3 linked regions of the Homo sapiens genome follow. The protein of the gene in region 1 purifies or fractionates together with the protein of each later gene. This does not show direct contact. Each region holds a gene or a part of one and is shown in the gene's direction. Other genes may lie near its edges.

What was found. The genes of interacting proteins can lie anywhere in the genome.
Region 2: the proteins of CDKN2AIP (region 1) and KPNA1 purify together in Homo sapiens (co-immunoprecipitation; 4 studies listed by BioGRID and IntAct, with this or other methods). This does not show direct contact.
Region 3: the proteins of CDKN2AIP (region 1) and MAGEB2 purify together in Homo sapiens (co-immunoprecipitation; 2 studies listed by BioGRID and IntAct, with this or other methods). This does not show direct contact.

What each region holds. Positions count from the first base shown.
Region 1 is NC_000004.12:183,439,798-183,448,024, forward strand, and holds the start of CDKN2AIP (CDKN2A-interacting protein), read left to right. Parts: upstream 1-4,838; 5' UTR 4,839-5,000; coding exon 5,001-5,272; intron 5,273-5,737; coding exon 5,738-5,868; intron 5,869-6,290; coding exon 6,291-7,630; 3' UTR 7,631-8,227. UniProt on the Homo sapiens protein: Regulates DNA damage response in a dose-dependent manner through a number of signaling pathways involved in cell proliferation, apoptosis and senescence.
Region 2 is NC_000003.12:122,421,395-122,428,323, reverse strand, and holds the end of KPNA1 (importin subunit alpha-5), read left to right. Parts: intron 1-607; coding exon 608-786; intron 787-1,151; coding exon 1,152-1,339; 3' UTR 1,340-6,422; downstream 6,423-6,929. UniProt on the Homo sapiens protein: Functions in nuclear protein import as an adapter protein for nuclear receptor KPNB1. Binds specifically and directly to substrates containing either a simple or bipartite NLS motif.
Region 3 is NC_000023.11:30,211,351-30,218,569, forward strand, and holds the start of MAGEB2 (melanoma-associated antigen B2), read left to right. Parts: upstream 1-4,212; 5' UTR 4,213-4,305; intron 4,306-7,178; exon of another isoform or gene 7,179-7,219. UniProt on the Homo sapiens protein: May enhance ubiquitin ligase activity of RING-type zinc finger-containing E3 ubiquitin-protein ligases. Proposed to act through recruitment and/or stabilization of the Ubl-conjugating enzyme (E2) at the E3:substrate complex.

The sequences.
Region 1 (8,227 bases):
GTAAAAACAATGGCATAAATCCTGCAGGTAAGTAGGAAAACTTCAGAATTATCCATCTGCTGTCGATTTATCACTAGAGATTAGATTTTATCCTGAACGCATATTTTGGGAATATCTAAATATCTGTAATATGGTCTCTCCAGAATTTTCTTACATGATGTGGAAATCAAGAGCTACCTGCCTGAAGTTGATAGATTTAAAAATGATGATTAAGTATAATATTTGAATTTATGACAGGTAGCCAACGGGAAAACAATAAAAGATAACAAAAATTAGGAGAAAAAAGGGGTAGTGTAAATGATATGGATTTCTCAGCTTCAACATTCAGGAGTGAAATAAGTACTGCTTAAAGTTGAAAAAATAAGAAATGGAAGTATAAGCATTTAATTTGGAGTTATGAAAATAATCACCCAAAGAAATCAAGATAGAAATGACATGAATGCTGATGTCCACAGAGTGGGACCAGGTTGAGTGAGGGAGATTGTTTGCTTTCATTTATGCCTCTTTTTTTCTACTTAGATGTTTCATTTTTGTGTGCACACATTATATTTTTATTTTATTTTAATTTTTGAGACAGTCTCCCTTTATCGCCCAGGCTGGAGTGCAGCGGTGCGATCACAACTCACTGCAACCTCGACCTCGTGGGCTCAAGTGATCCTCCCACCTTAGCCTCTTGAGTAGCTGGAACTAGAGGTATGTACCAACACACCCAACTATGTTTTGTATTTTTTGTAGAGACAGGGTCTTGCCATGTAGACTAGGCTGGCCTTGAACCCCTGGGCTCAAGTAATCTGCCCACCTTGGCCTCCCAAAGTGTTAGGATTACAGGTGTGAGCCACCACGCCCAGCCTGTAATTTTAAATTGGCCAAAAAGACTATGTTCATCTAGGCAGCCTGCTCTTCTGCCCTCTAAAATATCCATTGCGAGCATTCTCTGCACCATCAGATGGCCTCCATGTCAACGTCTCAGCTCCAAACTTACAAACGTCTTCTTTTAAAACAGAGGAAGTGTCTGCCCACCTAAGGTTAATCTCTCCACCTGTGTGTGGATCCCAGCCACACCTATGTCTGCAGAAATTGCTAATTACCCTCTTTTTCTTCAGATCCTCAAACTCTCCTTTTCTGTGAGTTGCCTTCAAGCAGTGGGCAACATGCTCAGGCTACTCCCATCTGAAATTGAAGCCACCTTGACCCCATGACCCTGTCCAGCTTCCTCTATCTTCTCCCCTTTACAGCCAAATATCTCCATTTCCGACTCCTGAACTCACTCTGATATGGAGTCTTCATCACTGCAGTAAAAACGGCTTTTGCCAAGCTCACAGGTGGCTCCAGTCCGTAATCAGACTGTTACTACCTATCTTCATCCTACTTGATTTCTCAAAGCTTCTAACAGAGGGGATCACTCTTAAAACATTCTCTTACTTTTTCAGAACATCCCACCTTATCACTGTAATTTGGCAGATTTGTGTCCTCACACATCATTAGCATAAAATATTTCCCCTCACCATGAAGTATTTCTCACATCAAGTCATAACCTTGGCCATAACTGGAGTATTTGCTCCTCACAAGCCTCTCCACATGCAGACCTTCCTGCCAAAGGCTTTCTTGCTTCCACAGTCACATCCAGGAACAGGGGCAATCCCTTCATGTTGCTCCATGGGAAAGCCATCTGCAGAAAAGCCAGCTTGCCGCTGGAATTTTTATTGGATGTCTTCAGAGAGATATGCTACAGAACCAGTTTCAGTGAATGGGCTTCCACTTACAGCAGAAAATTTAATCCTGTGAACTCAGTCACTTGTTTGAAACTCAATTTGGGATGATAGTGGATCTTTCTCAATTCATTAGAATTCTCTCCCTTTTCTCCTCTGAGTAGATTTCTAGTGAGGGCAGTGGTGGGGTGAGGCTTGGTTATCATCCTAGCATTGTCTTGTGCTTTCTTCCCTGTGGGCTCTGCTGGGAGTATAACTGCTTGATCTACCAGCACAAGCAATGCACACTGATCATTTCAGGAGAGGTTGAGGGTCCTCTCCTATTGATGCGGCCTGACGGGCACTGGTCTGATGACTTGCTGAAAACTAGCTGCATCTCCCTTTGCTGACAAGCTGACCACCCCTAGCCTCATTCACCTTGGACCCTGGTGCTTGGTAGGCACTTCACCATTCAACTCTTTCTTGGGAACCTTTTGGATCTCCTCTAGGCCCTGTGAGATATATGTGCGTAAATGCGTGTGTGTGTGTTATGTATATATACACACACACATATGTATATATATATACACACGTGTGTTAGGAGCAGAGGAGGGAGTTGTATAGTTGGTTATCAAAGCTATAAAAGGCCCTTTCTATGTTCATTTCTAAAGGCCAACGCATACAGGCTCAGGGCACGATTGGGCTGTCTTCTCTCAGAAACTCGGGCAGAGCCAAGTCCTTCTGCTCTTAGACCCAAAATCTACCTAGCAATTTCTAACAGCCAACACTTCCCACCCTGCATCTTATTCCCTACTCCCATAGACTTTCCTAGTTATCACCTAAATTCTCCTCTCACCTTTTCTCTCAGAACGTCTCCCCCAGCTTAGAGAGGAATTTGTCTCTGTAGGTGGGAGGGTCTTTAAAAAAAAATGAGGCCGGGCACAGCGACTCATGCCTATAATCCCAGCACTTTGAGAGGCCGAGGCAGAAGAATTGCTTGATATTAGGAGTTCAAAACCAGCCTGGACAACAGTGAAACCTTGTTTCTACAAAAAAATAAAAAATTAGCCTGTCGTCGTGGTACCCGCCTGCAGTCCCAGCTACTTGTGGTTCATAGTCTTTGAATCTTTATATGCAAAGTCAACTTTTTAAGAATCAAAAAAGAAAAATGCATGTATCTTTTATTCCAAGCACCTGGTTTTTGCACAAGTACTCCATCTTTCAGACTCTATCGCTTTTATTATAATTAAAAAAATTGTTTGAAATTCAGGCTCTACTTGTTCTCCTTTCAAGGCAATGAAGCCCATGAGTGGGAAGAAGACTACAGGGCAACAAGAAAAAAAGTGAGAACATTATTATTATTATTTTTTGAGATGAAGTCTCACTCTGTCACCCAGGCTGGAGTGCAATGGCTTGGTCTCGGCTCACTGCAACCTCTGCCTCCTGAGTTCAAGCGATTCTCCCGCCTCGGCCTACAGAGTAGCTGGGACTACAGGCACGTGCCACCACACTTGGCTAACTTTTGTATTTTTAGTAGAGATGGGGTTTCACTACATTGGCCAGGCTGGTCTCGAACTCCTGACCTCATGATTCGTCCGCCTCGGCCTCCCAAGGTGCTGGGATTACAGGCGTGAGCCACTGCACCTGGCCGTGAGAACATTCTTGATTTAAAATGCACATATATAATCTAGGTATGCGATCATAGCTTCTTTTACTTGCCATGGTCCCCTTGCCAAAGAATTCATGAAAGGAGAAATCGTAATTTCTCCACCTTTTAAATAGCCAGATTTCTGCAATCCGTCCACCCCCTCTAGATTTTCAGCAATTATCTGTGAAAAGGAGGAAAGAACAGCAAACTAGAAGCAAAATCACAAAGCTTCAAAATTTCTTTGTGCCTCCGTTTTTATGTAGTTTCTTTTGGTATGGCAGGAAAATGGGCAATATTGTTTTCATACAATAGCTGTATTTTGTTCCAGCATGCACATAAATTACACAGTTAACCTTATCTGATCTTACCTAAAGTGACCTTTTTTTGCTTGCTTATTCTGATTCATGCATTTTTACATCAAAGTCTACATTTATTGAAAGAAAAATTTCATAATTTATATCATTTAACGTATTTATCTTACAGTGCATGTATACCTGGAATGGGAAACGTAACAATAAGCCAGCCAGCAGTTAGAGTACGTAACTGTGGGAAATGTAAAGTGGAAAAAAATATATAGAAGGAAAAAACAGCTCTAACAGGGAGAGAGGTTTGGGGCCCTATAGATAAATAGGTACATTTCCACTCCACCTCCGGACATCTGCCGGTTGGTGGTAAAGCTGTTGATTTTAGGAAATTCTAGAGACAGAGCGTTGTCGGGGTGTTGTTTTCCTACTGACCAGAACAGGAAGGCAATGCCTGGATTAACTAGAGACCTAATAAACTGCGGGAACAAGCCCTACCGCTGCGGGGCCAGGGCCAGCTTCGAAGGCTGCAAGCCTCACGGCAACACGGAGCCAGGTCCTCGTGTGACCTTACTGTCTACTGCTGCTATGTAAGGGGACTGGCACTCCCGCCCTCCTGAAGGCGCGGAGACCCCGACGGCCTCGGAACGCTTCGCTCGGGCACACTGAAAGCAGCGCGAGACGCAGCTCCCAACACTCTAACATGGAGGCCGGCTTTTGTTTGTTTTGGCCCCGCTCACACACAGGCGTCTCAGGGCGGAGACCACAGGCCCCGCGGCTGCGGGCGGCTCAAGGTCCCCCGGGACGCCCCCCTAGCGGACTTTGGCCGCCGCGCCCGGCTGCCTCCCTTGCCCGGGCCCTGCCCCTCTCGCCTCTGCTCCCGGCGCCGCAGCTGACCCGGCGGGGGAGGAGGACGGCAGGAGCGCGCGGCGTCACAAAGCGAGGACAGAACGCCCGGGGTTCCGCCGAGACTCGGTCGTCCCAGGCCAGCTCGACTTGCAGTCCGCCCTCGTGGGGCGGGAGACGCCCGACGCCCGCCCACCTCACCCCCGGGGTGCCCTCCGTGGCCTCACGGGGACGCAGCGTCGCAGCGGCCCCGGCGCCGCAAAGCGTCTTGGGAGCGCCGGCTCGCGCCGGAAGAACGCGAGGGCGCGCGGCGGCGGCGAGGTTATAAAAGGGAAGAAGCCGGCGGTGGGCGGAAGTGGGCGGTTCGGCGGCTCTGGGCGCTGTTGTTTGGTCTTTAGGCCTGCGGAGGGGCGTTATCTGGAGGGCCGCGGGTGCAGGCCGCAGTGACAGGGCCGCTCGCCCCGCTAGTCCTGCCTGTCTCCCGGTGCAGCTGTGTTCGCGGCCTGCAGGCCCAACATGGCGCAGGAGGTGTCGGAGTACCTGAGCCAGAACCCGCGGGTGGCAGCCTGGGTGGAGGCGCTGCGCTGCGACGGCGAGACTGACAAACACTGGCGCCACCGCCGGGATTTTTTGCTTCGCAACGCCGGGGACCTGGCCCCCGCTGGCGGCGCTGCCTCCGCTAGCACGGATGAAGCTGCCGACGCCGAGAGCGGGACCCGAAACCGGCAGCTGCAGCAGCTCATCTCCTTTTCCATGGCCTGGGCGAACCACGTCTTCCTCGGGTGCCGGTGAGTGAGGCAGCGTCCCTAACCAGCACGCCTCGTTTTGTGTGCCACCTGCAGACCGGGGCCCGGCGCCCTCCGCGGGACCGGCCTCGGCGGGGAGGGGAAGTTGTGAAGCGCGGGAATCCGCCGGCCCGGCTGCCCTCTAAGGGGGAGAAGGGCGTCCCTGCGAGGAGCCGACATGATTCCCGGACGTCTGTGTGCCCGGTGGTGTGGGCGCAGCTGCTGGTAGGGTTGCTTGTGTTAGGGAACAACGCTCTTGGGGACGGGTGCGAGATTTAAGATTAGTGAGGAGGTGCCCTGCCTCCCAGACCCTGGGGCACTTGTTTATGGGGTTCCAGGAAACAGTTCTTGGCGGTTGGTTCACTTTCTTGATTGCAGCCAGGAAATGCAGTCCCTGTGGCCTGTTTTTTGCACAAGTAGGACCTTAGAAAAAACACTTTTTAAAAATGACTTTTCCTTCTTTTTCAGATACCCTCAAAAAGTTATGGATAAAATACTTAGTATGGCTGAAGGCATCAAAGTGACAGATGCTCCAACCTATACAACAAGAGATGAACTGGTTGCCAAGGTGAAGAAAAGAGGGATATCGAGTAGCAATGGTTAGCAGATCATAGATGTGAACATACATAGGAGTTTAGAGCATAAGTTTGATATAATTAGGAATTATTGTTACTAATTTTTTTAACAAGCCAGAATTTTTATGTTATTAATAAGTAATAAAGTTGGAATGTTAAACCTAAAGTATATATCTGTGTCTTTAGGCTTTGAATTTGATAGTTTGCTTTGACTGCTTTAGATTTTGAAGTGTCCACTGTTGTCTGATGCTGTTATTTTTTTAATATTAGACATTCATGATGTTATTCAACACTGTTTTAAGAAATTAATGACTCCACACTTTTTAAAGAAACGATTAGTCTTGAAATGTTTTCACTTTGTGCCTTTATTTTAATGTGTATTTGTCTCATCACCCGTTTTGTACGAGGTATTCTTAGTCACATATCTATGTTTTTCTTCTTTTTAGAAGGGGTAGAAGAGCCATCCAAAAAACGAGTTATAGAAGGAAAAAACAGTTCTGCAGTTGAGCAAGATCACGCAAAAACCTCTGCCAAGACAGAACGTGCATCAGCTCAGCAGGAAAACAGTTCAACGTGTATAGGGTCGGCCATCAAATCAGAGAGTGGGAACTCAGCTCGGAGCTCTGGCATCTCCAGTCAGAATAGCTCTACAAGTGATGGAGATCGATCTGTTTCCAGCCAAAGCAGCAGCAGCGTTTCCTCTCAGGTAACAACGGCAGGATCTGGGAAAGCTTCTGAAGCAGAAGCTCCAGATAAACACGGTTCTGCATCATTTGTTTCCTTGCTGAAATCCAGTGTGAATAGTCACATGACCCAATCCACTGATTCTAGACAACAAAGTGGATCACCTAAAAAGAGTGCTTTGGAAGGCTCTTCAGCCTCAGCTTCTCAAAGCAGCTCAGAGATCGAGGTGCCCTTGTTGGGCTCCTCAGGAAGCTCAGAGGTAGAATTGCCACTATTGTCTTCCAAACCTAGTTCAGAGACAGCTTCAAGTGGGTTAACTTCCAAAACTAGTTCAGAGGCAAGTGTTTCATCATCAGTTGCTAAAAACAGTTCCTCATCAGGCACATCCTTACTGACTCCCAAGAGCAGCTCTTCAACAAATACATCGCTGCTAACTTCCAAGAGCACTTCCCAGGTAGCTGCATCACTACTAGCTTCCAAGAGCAGCTCCCAGACCAGTGGATCTCTGGTTTCCAAAAGCACTTCCTTAGCAAGTGTGTCCCAGTTGGCTTCTAAGAGTAGTTCTCAGACTAGCACCTCACAGTTGCCTTCTAAAAGTACTTCACAGTCAAGTGAGAGTTCTGTCAAATTCTCTTGCAAGTTAACCAATGAAGATGTGAAACAGAAGCAACCTTTTTTCAATAGACTATATAAAACGGTGGCATGGAAGTTGGTAGCTGTTGGTGGCTTTAGTCCCAATGTGAATCATGGAGAGCTCCTAAATGCAGCTATTGAGGCTCTGAAAGCAACACTGGATGTATTTTTTGTCCCACTAAAAGAATTGGCAGATCTGCCTCAAAATAAGAGCTCTCAAGAAAGTATTGTTTGTGAATTGAGGTGCAAGTCTGTGTATTTGGGCACTGGCTGTGGAAAAAGCAAAGAAAATGCAAAAGCAGTTGCATCAAGAGAAGCATTGAAGTTATTTCTCAAGAAAAAGGTGGTGGTAAAAATATGTAAAAGGAAATACAGAGGCAGTGAAATAGAAGATCTAGTACTCCTTGATGAAGAATCGAGGCCTGTAAACTTACCTCCAGCACTAAAACATCCTCAAGAATTACTATAATGTGTCCAAAATATCACTGCATACAATATCTGGTATTTGAAGAGAAAAACTGACTTTTGTATAGTATAAAACACAGGCTTTCACAAATTTTGTATTGCTTTTTTTCCAGTTTTGCAGAAAATTTACATTCTAGTTCTCTTCACACAGTAGCAGTTGTAAATAATTTATGAATGACAGTACACATTAAAAGGTATGCATTAGCAGCATATTAGTATGCTGTTTTATTTGCTGAAGAAAATACTGTCTTCTATTTTTAATGATACATTAGGTACGATGTGTAGTTCGGTAGAGTCCTAAAATTTTTGTACTACTTTCAATTTGGTGAAAATGTATTAAGTTGTCTACCATGTTTTCTTTTCTAGCTGAATAAACCACATCAAAGGAAAGGGACCACAGTATTTGAATGTTTGAAAGTCTGTAAAGCTTAAGGTTTTAAAAATGTTGCCCGTAATGTTGAACGTGTCTGTTAAAAAATAAAAGAAAAAATAGTTGCTTCAAACTATTTTTATGAGAAGTTGTAAGCATTTTTTAGATATAAAGCAGTATAAAGTACTTGTTATTTTACTCTGAAGTTGTTTAAAATTCACCATGACTTTG
Region 2 (6,929 bases), on another chromosome or scaffold:
ACCAGAATGATAAAAAATGACATGACTATTTACTGTGAATGTGATACAGTAATCATGTCTCTGAAGTTCAAGTATGATTAATCTTGATTACATACGGTTATACATTCTGCTTGAATTAAAGGAAAAATACCAGTTCTAGAATCCTCTGACATTTGTTTATTCTTCCCACAACTTACTTTACTAAAATTCTAATCATCTTTGAAAGATTTGGCTTATCAGGCTTGTGCTGGCTTTTAGCACCAAGAGTGTCATGTTTGAGAGGTGTGGCTATCTATGGAAACAAAGATGAAATTACTCAAACCTATACTATTTTGATGAGTCGCTCATTTCAAGGTATTAATAAGTAAGTATTCCTGTTTTTGGAATGCATAAATTGTGAAGAGAAAAGAATGGAGAAAGGTGCCAGAGAACTGGTTTGGGATAATTTATTTAGAGGGTTTTTTGTTTTTGTTTTGTGAAAAGGTATAGCTTGTATGGTTGAAAGAGTGCTTGTTTTTTGTTTTTTTTTTTAAGTCTCTGCAGTGAAGTTGAGGATGACTTGCTCACTAATTTCATAAGTTTAACAAAATTAAAAGTTTTGTTTGACTACATTATTCTTTGTATTTAGGTACCTAGTAGAACTGGGTTGTATCAAGCCGCTCTGTGATCTCCTCACGGTCATGGACTCTAAGATTGTACAGGTTGCCCTAAATGGCTTGGAAAATATCCTGAGGCTTGGAGAACAGGAAGCCAAAAGGAATGGCACTGGCATTAACCCTTACTGTGCTTTGATTGAAGAAGCTTATGGTAAGATGCTTTGGTTGAAGAAGTTTATGGCCAAGAATGAATTGGGTCATAGATAGAGTTCAGTAAAAACAATACTACTACTGCTAGGCACTGGATGAAAAGAGGACTGTTAGGAAATTGCTGCTTCTGCAGACTGGATATTACTTGCATATGTATTTAAGATGTCAGTTTATAATACTAGCTTTCAGATGTAATCCCAGCAGTCATTTCTGTGCTATTATAAAATACTTATGAGATACAAATAATCTTTCTTTACATCAAGAACAGAGATATATGACAAAATATAGTTTAGGAATATATAGTTATGGAATTTCCAATATTTATTGAAGTTTTCAATAAAGATTTTCCTTTATTCTTCATTTTAGGTCTGGATAAAATTGAGTTCTTACAGAGTCATGAAAACCAGGAGATCTACCAAAAGGCCTTTGATCTTATTGAGCATTACTTCGGGACCGAAGATGAAGACAGCAGCATTGCACCCCAGGTTGACCTTAACCAGCAGCAGTACATCTTCCAACAGTGTGAGGCTCCTATGGAAGGTTTCCAGCTTTGAAGCAATACTCTGCTTTCACGTACCTGTGTCAGACCAGGCTACCCAGTCGAGTCCTCTTGTGGAGCCCACAGTCCTCATGGAGCTAACTTCTCAAATGTTTTCCATAATACTGTTTGCGCTCATTTGCTTGCCTTGCGCACCTGCTCTCTTACACACATCTGGAAAACCTCCGGCTCTCTGTGGTGGAATACCCTTCTAATAAAAGGGTAACCAGAACGGCCCACTCTCTTTTACGGAAAAATCCCTAGGCTTTGGAGATCCGCACTTACATTAGAGTTATGGGAATATACACATATTAATGTGGCTCCCTTTTTCTTGTGGGGGAATAAAAGAGGACTCCTCCTCATTCCCTTTAACATGGGGGAAAAAACTGACATTAAAAGATGAGACTAAATCTTTATCTTGAATTTTACACAACTACTTACGACAAGGGAGATGTTTAGACCTGTTGTGTATACTTCAGAGTACTTTTCATGAGTTCTTCCACAGTGAACCCTTGGATTACCTGGTGGCTTTTTCTAGCCAGATTTGCATTAATCCTTACTGAGATTGGATGGTTTTCTTTCCTCTATTGGCGCCATTCTTCAGATATTAAAGTTAAACCATCCACTCCCTCACCTTCAGCCTTCAGTGAATGTGCTTTCTAGTTGTCAGGAATGCTGAAGAATTAACACTTTGACTCCTAAATGTGATACTGGTTTGTAGATTCCCTTAGAGCAGAAAGGAGAGGGGCACATATTAATTTGTATCGCTTTTGCTTCTCTTTGGTCTTTTGTGTCTTAGAATTTGGAAGTGGTTCATTTCTGTTGCTGGTATGAGGATTTCGAATACTTAGTAATCGAAAACCATATCCTGTAATTTAATAAAAAAAACTAAGGACGAAAAAACCCTCCAATTTTCCCAAATGCAATCAGTGTAACTAGGGGCTGTGTTTCTGCATTAAAATAAATGTTTCAGGCTTTGTGGTCCTGATCAAGGTCCTCATTAAAAAATTGGAGTTCACCCTAGGTGCTTTTCCCCTCTGTGACTGGCAGATAACACATACTTTTGAAAGTAACTTTGGGATTTTTTTCTTAGGTGCAGCTCGATTCTAATCTTTTCATGCTGCACACGATTCCTTTAATGTAGCATCCTTATCTGAAAGAAATAACCATCTTCTCAACATGACCTGCTTAACCCAAATAAGAACAGTGATCTTATAACCTCATTGTTTCCTAATCATTTTATTTCATCTCCTGCTAGTACTGTGCCGCTTCCCCCTCCCCCCACACAAAATAAAAACAGTATCTGCCTTCTGGCTCATTTAATGATGACTGCAATCTGTACCTGCAAATGGCGCTTCCAGTACTGTGTTCAGTGATCCACATTTGTGCTTGGACTGGAATGAAAAAATACGCTTAATTGCCAAGACAACTGCAAATGAGTTCAATACGACTTCTCGGTGCTAGTTGGCCATCTTGACTCAATGTTGGGATACACTACCAGAGAAGATTTTTTTGTTGATGTGCTGTTCAAAGTGAATTCTGAAGGAAAAGGTTGCTCACCTCTGTTTCAGAGCATACCCTTTTAAACCTTTTTAGACTTGTCCTCTTCTAGAATTCATTATAACCCCAAAGTGTAAAAACTATTTGGAAGTTGCCCCTGACAAGCTATTATACATCTCTGGTAAATCCTGCTGAATGTAAGGGATATTCAGAGCTTTTCATACCTCATCATGATGTTATTTAAGCAGCCAACTTATGTGACCTGATTTAAACTTTTAAAAAATCCACTTCATTCAAACTAGAAAGAGTCAAAGACAAAGGACATTTATCAGCCAAGAGTGTGACGCATTCTTCGCATCTAGTCTGTAGTAGTGTCTGTGCTCTGGGATGGATACCGTCTGATGTCTGTTTGTTATTGATGGCGCAGCCACTGCAAAACTAGTCAACTCCCATCTATAACTGTTACTTTTTCTAGTGCTGCTTTGTGCTGAGAGAACATTTTAGTTTACTGCACTTGACCTGTAAAAGACTGATTCTTTGTAATTTTAGGGATAAATTAGGTGGTTAATTTAAAGAAGAAATTTCAATGTTGCCTTTACATCACATTAAAATATAACTTCTTTCAGAAGGATAATAGAAGCACTGATTCATAGTAAAAATCTTGTTTTTAGCTTTGACTTTTTTGTGGCTGTTTTTTAAAATTGTAAATTACTAGTAACATGTCATTTCTATAGGATGTTTTAAATTATGTACCTTCCATTGGATAGTTAAAATAATTTCATTTTATAAGCCAATTTGAGTGGGAAAGATACAAAGCACACAGTTGTCTCCCCACATTAGGAAGAGTAGTGTGCATTCAGACATTCGGAATTTTTGCTAGTAGTTGGAGATGTTTCAGTGAGTGAATTAAAACAAAGTCTATTTAACTGACGTGATCTATTTTGTGTCTAAAACAGAGGAATTTATCTTGTCCTAGAAGTTCATGAACTATAAGATCTAAGTTTTTTTTTCTTTTTTAACAATAAAATGATTTTTTCTTAAAGTATCAAAGTTGGAATTGGCTAAAAGTGAAGTAGCATAACTCAGATATGTTGGAACTTGGTACTGAAGCAGGCTTTTTGGTAACAGAAATGACATTTTAAGGGGTAACTGTATATCCTGTTTTTAGTTCTTTGCCTCTCAGATTCTGTTAACTTAGTTTAAATTCACTGAATACCCTACCACTAAGGCGTTGCTCATTACAAAAGCATGTTAATTTCAATACAGGAAAACTCTTTTGTAGTTTTATATATGGATTGGGGAAAGTGACTTTGTTTTACTTTTCCTTTTTATTCCCCTCCATCCTCCAAACTTCCAATCTATATTATTTGTAATGAGAACTTTGGTGGGGGAAAAAAAGCATTAAGAGAATTTTGGATGTAAAGGCATCTGGTATCTGATGGACCAGCAGGTAGATGTGGTTGGATTGAGAAATTTTGGGTAAGGTAGATGATAGAAGAAAGAGATTTTAGGAGACACAGTTCTCTGTGGAACACTTTCTTTCATGTTCCTGTAACTAATTGATCAAGACCCTTTTAAACGCTTATCTTTGTCAGTTCCGCTTTTGAAAAAACTATTGCCCTAGGATTGTTTCTTCCATATGACAGATGAAGGTTATTGGCTCTGAGTCATTTTTGGCATTATCGTCACAGATAAAAAGATTGGCAATTAATCTCATAAAAAATCTGAATTATTCCAGATTGCTGCCGATTTTTGCCTAAGAAACAATATGTAAGTATATTTTATAAACCAAACTTTGTCAACCAATTCTATTGTACGTCTACCCACAGGCAACTTTGAATTTACTTCTCTAGTGCTAAATAAACATTTCAGCGATTTAATCCCCCAACTTGGGGGATGCATTATGAAAAGGTTTTCCTGGAGTCAAGGGGTTTTTCTTTCTCGCTAGTTTTGTGAAAATTTTTATATCAATAGGCAAATCATTATAACTTTTTAGGGGTTGATGGTTTTTAAGTATATTGGAAATTGTGGTGTCTAAGGATGATGTTCAGTGAAGAAAAGGGATCCACTTTTAGAAACCAGCATTGTTTGCTTTCAACTTTCATACTGTATGCTAACTCCTACGTTCCAAAATGTGCTCATTTGCAGACACAGGTATGCCTATATACATGGAAGTCTCAAATCTGAATTTTTATCCATCTCAATATGACCATTTCTCTCTGTTGTGAGCTGAACAGATTAAGTATATATCTGCCAGGTTGGGAAATATTTTGGTCTATCTTTTCCTGTCATCAGAACTTAATTTAAAAAAATTATCAAAGGTCAGATGTGACTACTACAGTAAGTTGGCTATCATAAAGAATATTCCATAAAATGTTTTATCTGCCATACAAAATTACTGGGTTTATGGCCGGATGTGGTGGCTCATGCCTGTAATCCCAGCAGTTCAGGATTACAGGTTATATACAGGTTATAACAATGGATACCAGGACATCAGAATATCTGATAAAGCAAATATTTATATGCTAATTTAAAATATCAAATTGCTACTGGACATAAAATACATCTGGAAGCTTGGGGTAAGAAGAAAGAAAAGAAGTGTTCCGTTCTGTTTTCAACTAAGGGTAAACGAAGTCCCAGAGTGTTTTCCCTGTAGGTCAAATTAAGGTAACATGTCTTTATTTGATCATCTATTGTACACCAGATACCTGGCTAAGGGCTTTCCTTTTTTCTCATGTAGTCTTCCAAATGTTCTTTGATAATTGTCACTATATTATAGATGACAAAGTGAAGACTTACGAGAAATTACTTTGCCCCAAGGTTACAACACTTAGATGGCTGTCCAAGGGCGGGGAAGAGCCCTGCAAATTCTGTGTCTTGAAGAAAGCAGTGGCCACGCAGTAGTTCCGTGCCCAGGATCTCCCAGAACTAGACTTGGCAACCACAGCTGGGCCAGCCTTTTTTGTTAGACCATTCTTCCTGACTCCTGCTTACCATCAGCACCCTTAAAATGACGAAATCAGGCTTAAGTTGCTTTTAGGTTACACAGACTGGAGTGTAGGCCCTCTCAGGCCAAACATCTTTCCTCTTCTGTGGTGCTAAAATTCTGTATGACCAGACAAGTATGGTAATAGGTTTTTTTTTTTTTTTTTTTTGTGCAAATGATTTTGTGTTTAGTAAAATAATGGCTAAACACATGGATCCATTCAAACGCACAAATGTGGAAAGTATTGACACGGAAGGAAAGGCTTTGAAGAATTACTGCCTCAGGAAGCAGTGCCATGGATGCGAATTTAACACAGTCTACTTCTTCCTAAAGGAATATCATCCCAAGGAATGTCAAAAATTAAAATCACCTTTTAATGTACTGGTTGTTGAGTGTTTCTGCTTTACCTCAAGTCATTCTGACCACTCTACATCCTGCTTCAAAGTGTTCTGACACTTAGATTTGGAATGGCTCTAATGATTCTTTGTACTTGAATGTGGTCTGTCAGGCCATGGGTGAGTGCCTTGCACATAGTAGACATTCAATAAATACTAAATGAAGGAATATGCATGCATCTTTGTGATGTTAGTAAAGGGTGCTTGATAAAAGAAAATTCAAAGGAATTCCCTTATGCTGTTACTTGAAACCAGGATCAACATCTTAAGCAAATGTCTCAACGTGTTTTATATGCAGTTACTTTTCAGAAGACATGATTTGACCTGAAGTTTACAAAATCAAACATTGTCATAGCAGAGGTCTGGTATTTAAAAACAAACAAAGTGTCTTAGAAAAGCTAGTGGCCGGGTGCGGTGGCTCATGCCTGTAATCCCAGCACTTTGGGAGGCCGAGGCAGGTGGATCACGAGGTCAGGAGATCGAGACCATCCTGGCTAATATGGTGAAACCTCGTCTCTACTAAAAGTACAAAAAACTAGCCGGGTGTGGTGGCGGGCGCCTGTAGTCCCAGCTACTTGGGAGGCTGAGGCAGGAGAATGGTGTGAACCCAGGAGGCAGAGCTTGCAGTGGGTGGAGATTGCGCCACTGCACTCCAGCCTGGGTGACAGTGCAAGACTCCATCTCAAAAAAAAAAAAAAAAAAAAAAGCTGATGGGTATATTTTAC
Region 3 (7,219 bases), on another chromosome or scaffold:
GGGAGGTGAACAATAAGAACACATGGACACAGGGAGGGGAATATCACACACCAGGGACTGTCGGGGGAGGGGGGAAGGGGAGGTAGAGCATTAGGACAAATACCTAATGCATGTGGGGCTTAAAACCTAGATGACGGGTTAATAGGTGCAGCAAACCACCATGGCACATGTATACCTATATAACAAACCTGTACATGTATCTGCACAAGTATAGCAAAACTTAAAGTAAAAGAAAAATAAATAATTTAAAAAATGAGAGTTTTTAGTTAAAAAAAAAAAAGTTAAAATCCTTGATTTTTCCCCCTGTGATCCACACAAAATAACATAGCATCAGAATAGGTATTTTCTTGGAAATGTGAAATAACTCCACACTCAAATAGTTAAAATCATGAAATAAAAAAAAAAAGGTGAGATGTGTTCAATTCTTGATTTGCCTTATTCCTTTTAGCCTTTCTTTTTAAAAAATTAAAAGATATATAGCTGGATTTGTTTGGCTTTTTCAAAAATGTAAGATAAATTAAATTGTACTCATTTAGTACTCTTGTTCATTGGCTCTTTTATTCCCTAAATATTAATCAATTCTCTGCTCTTTGGAAGGCTCAATGTTAGTACTGGAGATGAAGGAGATGAGAAGAAATAAAAAAAGAAAGTTTTACCCATTGTCCAAAGAATTTTAGTCGTTAGGAGCAGCTATCATACAAATACATGGTGAAAGTATCTCTCAGATCCAAAGGACAAGGTTAAAAAAGATGGAGGCAGGTAAGAAAGTGGGAAGGGTTCCAGATGAGAGTGTGTAGTGTAAATGCTCTGAGAAAAAGAAAGCTAGGGCCTTGGGAAACTGCAGGTCCCTCACTGGGAGGTAATTTTAAGTGAGGCTGCATGCTGGACTGGAGGAGGCTGTGGGAGTGGTGAGCAGGGCAAGACCCTCAGATGGTAAGCTTCAGAGTTGAGAGACTAAGCCTATAATGGAAAAGTGCTCTTAACTTTGGAGAAAACTGGAAAGAAGCTCCACCAGGGGCAGCACTGGAAAGTGACTATGCTCTTGTCCCAGTGCAGATGAACACAGTGCAGAAACTAGCTGCTTTATATACATTGTATCCAGTGAGCTTCGGAGAAATAAGGATGATACTCCCTTAAGAAGAAATGATAAGAAGCCGCTGGGTACTCTGCACTGGGCTGGAAGAGTTAAGAGTCAATTTCATTAAAAGGAGCATTCAAATTAGGCTATCATGTACATAATTTGGCAAGCTCTAGGCAAGTTCTAGGTGTTTGGTGCTTGTTAAATTAATGAAAATAAAGGTGATTTAGATGGAAGTGACACTGGGAGGGAAGGAAGTTGTTAGTCCTTGACGCAAATGCGTTGTGTTGCACCTAACTGGAGAAGTCTACCTCACATTGAATAATTTATCATTTAATGGGGAAATATTACTTGATTTTTCGTGCTAATCTGCATTTTGGCTTATTGGGTTTTCTTTCTTCTAGAATGCTGCATATTCTCTGACATCTGTTGGATTAAGAAAAAGCAATCACAGTGGGATGGGTGGTATCATCAAGTTAATCATAGGTAATAGCTGCCATGTTGAAACCTCAATATGGGCCAAGTATTGTGCCAGGTGCTTTACATACATTAACCACATTTCACCAATTCCACAAGGAAGGGGCTTATCAAACCTATTTCACAGATGCAGAGCCTGAGGCTCACAGAGTTTAGTAATGTGCCTGAGTTCACATAGCTGGTAAGTGGCAGGGCTGAAACCAGACCCCCAGTCTGGATTAATCTACATCCCACACTGTTCCAGTCTTCCCATTCTGAGGCTAACCTCATGTTGCTTCATTCATTTTTTCTCTCTATTTTTGAAAAATGTATCTCAGGCAATAAAAAGAAGGACTCTGTGCCCATACTACTGGGTCAAATATATTCCCAGACCAATATGAATGCCAAAATAAATGAGAGGCATAAATAAAAAAAAGAAAAATAGTACCTGGTGTCAATACGTTCATCTACACAAGCAATATCAGGTAATCTCAAAAGATCAGAAGCTCCCAAAATCATCCTGGACAGTCTCTTCCCTGTAGAAAATAAATGTGTCAGAACAGAATTTTCGTGAGAATCTAAGTCTAGCAAGATGGAAAAAATCAGCATGTTTTTTTCTCTGACAGCCCACTACCTGTCCTGGAGCTTCTGCCTTGTGCTTCAGCTTCCCTATCTCACATCACTCCCGGAACACGGCTCCTTCTCTGCAAGGTTTGCAGTAGAAAAACTGGTCATGTTTGCAGGGATGTGACATTTCCCAGAAAGCCTTTAATGAAAGATGATCCCCAGTTCAGAGGACATGGGAAACCAATATCTCAGAATATATGAGGTTATGCATAGACTGACTCTCATCTGCTCTCAGACCTAGAGAGCTCGAGACAGAACTGTCAGGCTGAGCATCCACTCATTTAATCTTCAGACCTCTCATGGACATGGCCTAAGAAGGTCAACTTCATGTCAGTAGATGCAGTTCAGCCTCTGATAGATATGAACGTGAGGACCCTGAATGAAGATGATGGAAGGACCCAGCCAGAACTGTGGGGTCCCAAAAAGTCCAGCTCAGGCTGTCAGCCCTTCAAAGTCCAGAACAGCCCTGGCTAAATGTAGCTCACCACAACTTCCAGTTCAGAGGTCGGCAGAGGGTGAGTACCTTGATCTGATGGGAACAGCCTCAGGTCAGTGGAGGATGGAGTGCCCCAAGACTGGCCAGGTGTCATGGTGAGGACCCTGAAGAGAAATAAGAGAACTGTTATAGGACCAACGAGTTTCTGTGTCAGCTGCAAAGTAACAGACCCACTATAATAAAACAGCAAAGTTTGCAGCAAAGAGTTTAATGATTGCAGGGTGCCAAGTGAGGAGATGAGAAGAGACTCTCAAATTCATCTCCCCAAGGAGTTCTGGGCTGGGATTTGCAAGGAGATCATGGAGGGCGAGGGGCTGGAGAACTGAGGTTGTTGATTCGTTGGGGTAAAGGGGATGAAATCATCAGAATGTGGAAACTGCGTTTTTTTTTTTTTAGTCAGCTCCTGTGGGGTCTTTTGGACCAGCTGATGTCAGTAGGGTCCTTTAGAGCAGCTGGCATCAGTGGGGTCCTTCAGACCAGCTGAGTCATTAGAATCATCAGTATGCAGGACCTTAAGGAATATCTCAAAGAAAAAAAGTTTCATTATGTTAAAATTGTTATCTATAGAGCAATTAAGGGCAACTATAATCTAGTAACAGGATCTACATGATTCTGGGATAATAGGCACCAAACTACTATGAGGAAGCAGGTCAGAGAGCAGCTGACTTCATGATTAATGCTGAATGTTCTGCAAGCTTGGCGTATCTTCATTTATCTCCCTTCCCTCTTCCCTGATTAATTTTATACAGTTCATAGGGGCAGTTTCAAAACCACCCACCCCAGAACAGAGGAGCCCACAAATTCCACCAATGCTGTCACCCTTGGGGAGCCCAGAAGAGAATTATGAGGTGGAGAAATCCCATCAATATGCCTCGTGTGTTTCACAGAGGTGAAGACCTTGGACTAGTGGAAATGGCCCTAGGTCAAAGAGACAAAACCCACGCCCTAACAGGAATCAAGGTGAGGATCCTAAGTGTTACGAGGGGGCTCTCCCCCTTGCAACACCAGCAGAGGGGGCCAAACAGAGCCCCTCGCCATTGTTAGCACCGAGAGGCCCCAAAATAAGTATCTCTGAATCCCCTTCATTCCACCTGTATAGTCTCGGGGAAGGAAGGGCCTTTGTCTGAAGAGGGTGACCCCAGTTGTGCAGAGAGAGAGTCTTGGCTTTCACGGGAATCAAGGTGAGGACTCTGAGGGCGGATGAGAAGACCTCTCCCCAAAAAAGGCACATTCACAGAGCCCTGCCGCTGCTGTCAGGCCTGTGAGGCCCAGGCAGGGGTGGCCTGTTTGGCACGCTTAGATTTCCACAGTGGGGGCTGAGGGAGGTGGGGGTATTGTTTGGAGGCTGGCGGATTTGGGTCAGCACGCATATTCGTCCCAGGCTGCTAGATACTGAGGTGAGGACCCCTAGTGGAGACGAAGGGACCAGCAACGCTAGAACAGTGACGTCCGGTAGCGTCCAGCCGTCAGCCCTCAGACGCCACGGGCTGCCGGATGTGAGTCATCCTGACTTCCGCTTTGAAAAAAAAGACCCGAGCGGATGTGGCTCATCCTGACTTCCGCTTTGGAGGCGAGGACCCGAGCGAGTGTAGGGGGTGCGGCGTCTGGTCAGCCAGGGGTGAATTCTCAGGACTGGTCGGCAGTCAAGGTGAGGACCCTGAGTGTAAACTGAAGAGACCACCCCCACCTGTAACAAAGAGGGCCCCACTAAGTCCCGCTTCTGCATTTGGTCCTGAGAGGCTCCGGTAAAGCCGTCCGGCAATGTTCCACCTGGAAAGTTCCAGGGCAGGGGAAGGGTGGGGGGAGGGGCAGTCGCGGGGGAAGGAGGTTTGGACGCAGGGAATAGGCCTCATTCTGCACGTAGGGTGGGTGTAGGCCCTAACTGAAATCAATTTGAGGGCCCTAAATGTGGACTGAAGAGAACATCTCCTACCCTTAACAAAGGTGGCCTCACTAAGTCTCGTCCCTGAAGACGGCTCTGGGAGGCCCCAGCAAAGCTGTGCCTGGAAAGTCTCAGGGAGGGGAGGGCCTTGAACCTAGGAAGCAGCCCTGCTTCTGCTCATATGGCATCAACCTAAAACCTAACTGGGGTTAAGGTGAGGACTCTGAGTATTAATGAGCGGACCTCTACCCAAAAGAGGAGTCATGCTGGGCAGTTCCCAGGCCGAGGTGACACTGGGTTTTAGATGGTCCCAGGCTGACATGACAAATGCAGAGCAACCTGACTTCCTCTCCCGGGACTAAAGAAGTTGAGGGCTACATCCAAGACCCACATCTGCTGCCAGCAATAGGAAGGTCAGGGCAAAGCTAGCAAGCTGAGATGCTCTCTAGTTTCCTCTGGAGGTGGTCTCAGGGAGGTGAGGGTCTTGGTGTAATGGGGTAGGTCTAATGCGACAGAGAGGCCCAGTCTCTAACAGGAAGCAAGGATGTGACACTGAGTGATGAGGAGGGGACTCCAACCAGAAAGAAGTGCCATATAGAGCCCACTCTTGTTGTCAGACCAGGGAGACCTGAGCATGGCATGTTGAGTTGTACTCACTCTCCCCAAGACATCTCAGAGAAGTGAACGACCCCATTAAAGAGGGCAGCCTGGCCGGGCGCGGTGGCTCACGCCTGTAATCCCAGCACTTTGGGAGGCCGAGACAGGCGGATCACGAGGTCAGGAGATCGAGACCATCCTGGCTAACACGGTGAAACCCTGTCTCTACTAAAAATACCAAAAAAAAAATTAGCGGGGAGCGGTGGCGGGCGCCTGTAATCCCAGCTACTCGGGAGGCTGAGGCAGGAGAATGGTGTGAACCTGGGAGGCGGAGTTTGCAGTGAGCCGAGATAGAGCCACTGCAGTCCGGCCTAGGCGAAAGGGCGAGACTCCGTCTCTTAAAAAAAAAAAAAAAAAAGGCAGCTTGAGGTCAGCAGAGGGAGGGTTTCCAGGTTGTGCCAGATGTTATGATAAGAACTCTGACGACTGCAGGGGGCTCCCACCCCATATTAGTGGGAGCCACACAATCCTCAGTACTGTCAGCTCTGAGAGACCCCAGGCAGAAATGTGAAACAGAGGTGCCCATCAGTTCCCACTCAAGGGTAACAGGGAAATGAGAGTTTTAATCTGAGGGTGGTGATCACTTGTCAACAGAAGTAATGTACTAATTGGTCCATTCTGGCATTACTATAAATACCCAAGACTGGGTAATTTACAAAGAAAAGAGGTTTAATTGGCTCACAGTTCTGCAGGCTGTACAGGAAGCATGATGCTGGCATTTGCTCAGCTTCTGGGAGCAGGGCTCAGGAAATTTACAATCATGGCAGAAGGGGAAGGGGAAGCAGACATGTTACATGGCCAGAGCAGGATCAAGAGGCCAGGGGAGGCGCTACACACTTTTAAATGACCAGATCTCATGAGAAGTCATCGTTAAGGGGAATGGTGCTAAACCATTCATGAAAAACCTGCCCTCATGATCCAGTCATCTCCCACCAGGCTCCACCTCCAACATTGAGGATTACAGTTAGACATGAGATTTGGTGAGGATACAGATCCAAACCATATCAGGGAAGAATCTTAGACCCTCTCATGAGTCAAATTTAGAGGCTGAGTTGGGACTGTATGTGGGACCATCTATCACAGGGCAGTTATCTGCCTGCCACAGCTTTTACTTTTGGGAAGACCACATTTGGTCAGATAAGGCCACCCTCACTTCCTCCTATGGGTTCTCAGGGATGTTCACTCTTACCATGACGACATAGGCCTCAGTTCAATAAAAAGGAGAGCTCCTCTACCAGGAGTCAAATTGAGGAATCTGAGAATTCAAGGAACCACTGAACCCTTAACAGTGGAGACATCAAAGAATCCAGTCCAACCCTTTATTTTCAGCCCTAGAAAGCTCAGGAAAGGGTTATCAGGTTTAGTGTCCCCCTCTCTTTTTTATATAAGATCTAAGAGAGGTGAGATTCTTAGTCTGACGGTGTAGCCACCACTCAGCAGAAGGGGGCTGGTGCCAAGCCCTACATGAAGCCAAGGTGGGGACCTTGAATGAGAGCTGAAGACTCTAATGATTCCAAGACATCAAAGACCCCACTGAACTCTCAGCACTGGGTGTCACTTCTCAGGGTGGTGGTTGAGGCACCCCTTCAATTTCTTCTCATGAGTCCCAGGGTGCTTTGAGGTGTCAAATTCACAGTAGCGGAAGGGAGTGGCTCAGGCCCTGCCAAGACTTCATATGATAATCCTAAAAGTTAACTGATAAAACCCCAAACACCAGAAGACAGGAGGCCGCACTGCCAGTACCTCCTGTCACCATAGTAAGCCCAAGGAAGGGCTGACAGAATGCAGTCTGAAACTCACTGTAGGGGTTCTGTGGTTCTTCTCTGGTGTCTCAGGGGAAAGGATAACCAGGACGACAGGAGCCTTGTGGCTTTCTAGAACAGTGCCTTCAGGGAAACTTGCAAAGGCAGGCTTCCTTCAGTAAAGCTAAGATGGGGTCTTCCAGCTGAAGGTGCTCACAGATCTCATTCTCCCATCTCCAGGTATACTAACCATCTATTCTTCTGCCCACATTTCTTGGTTT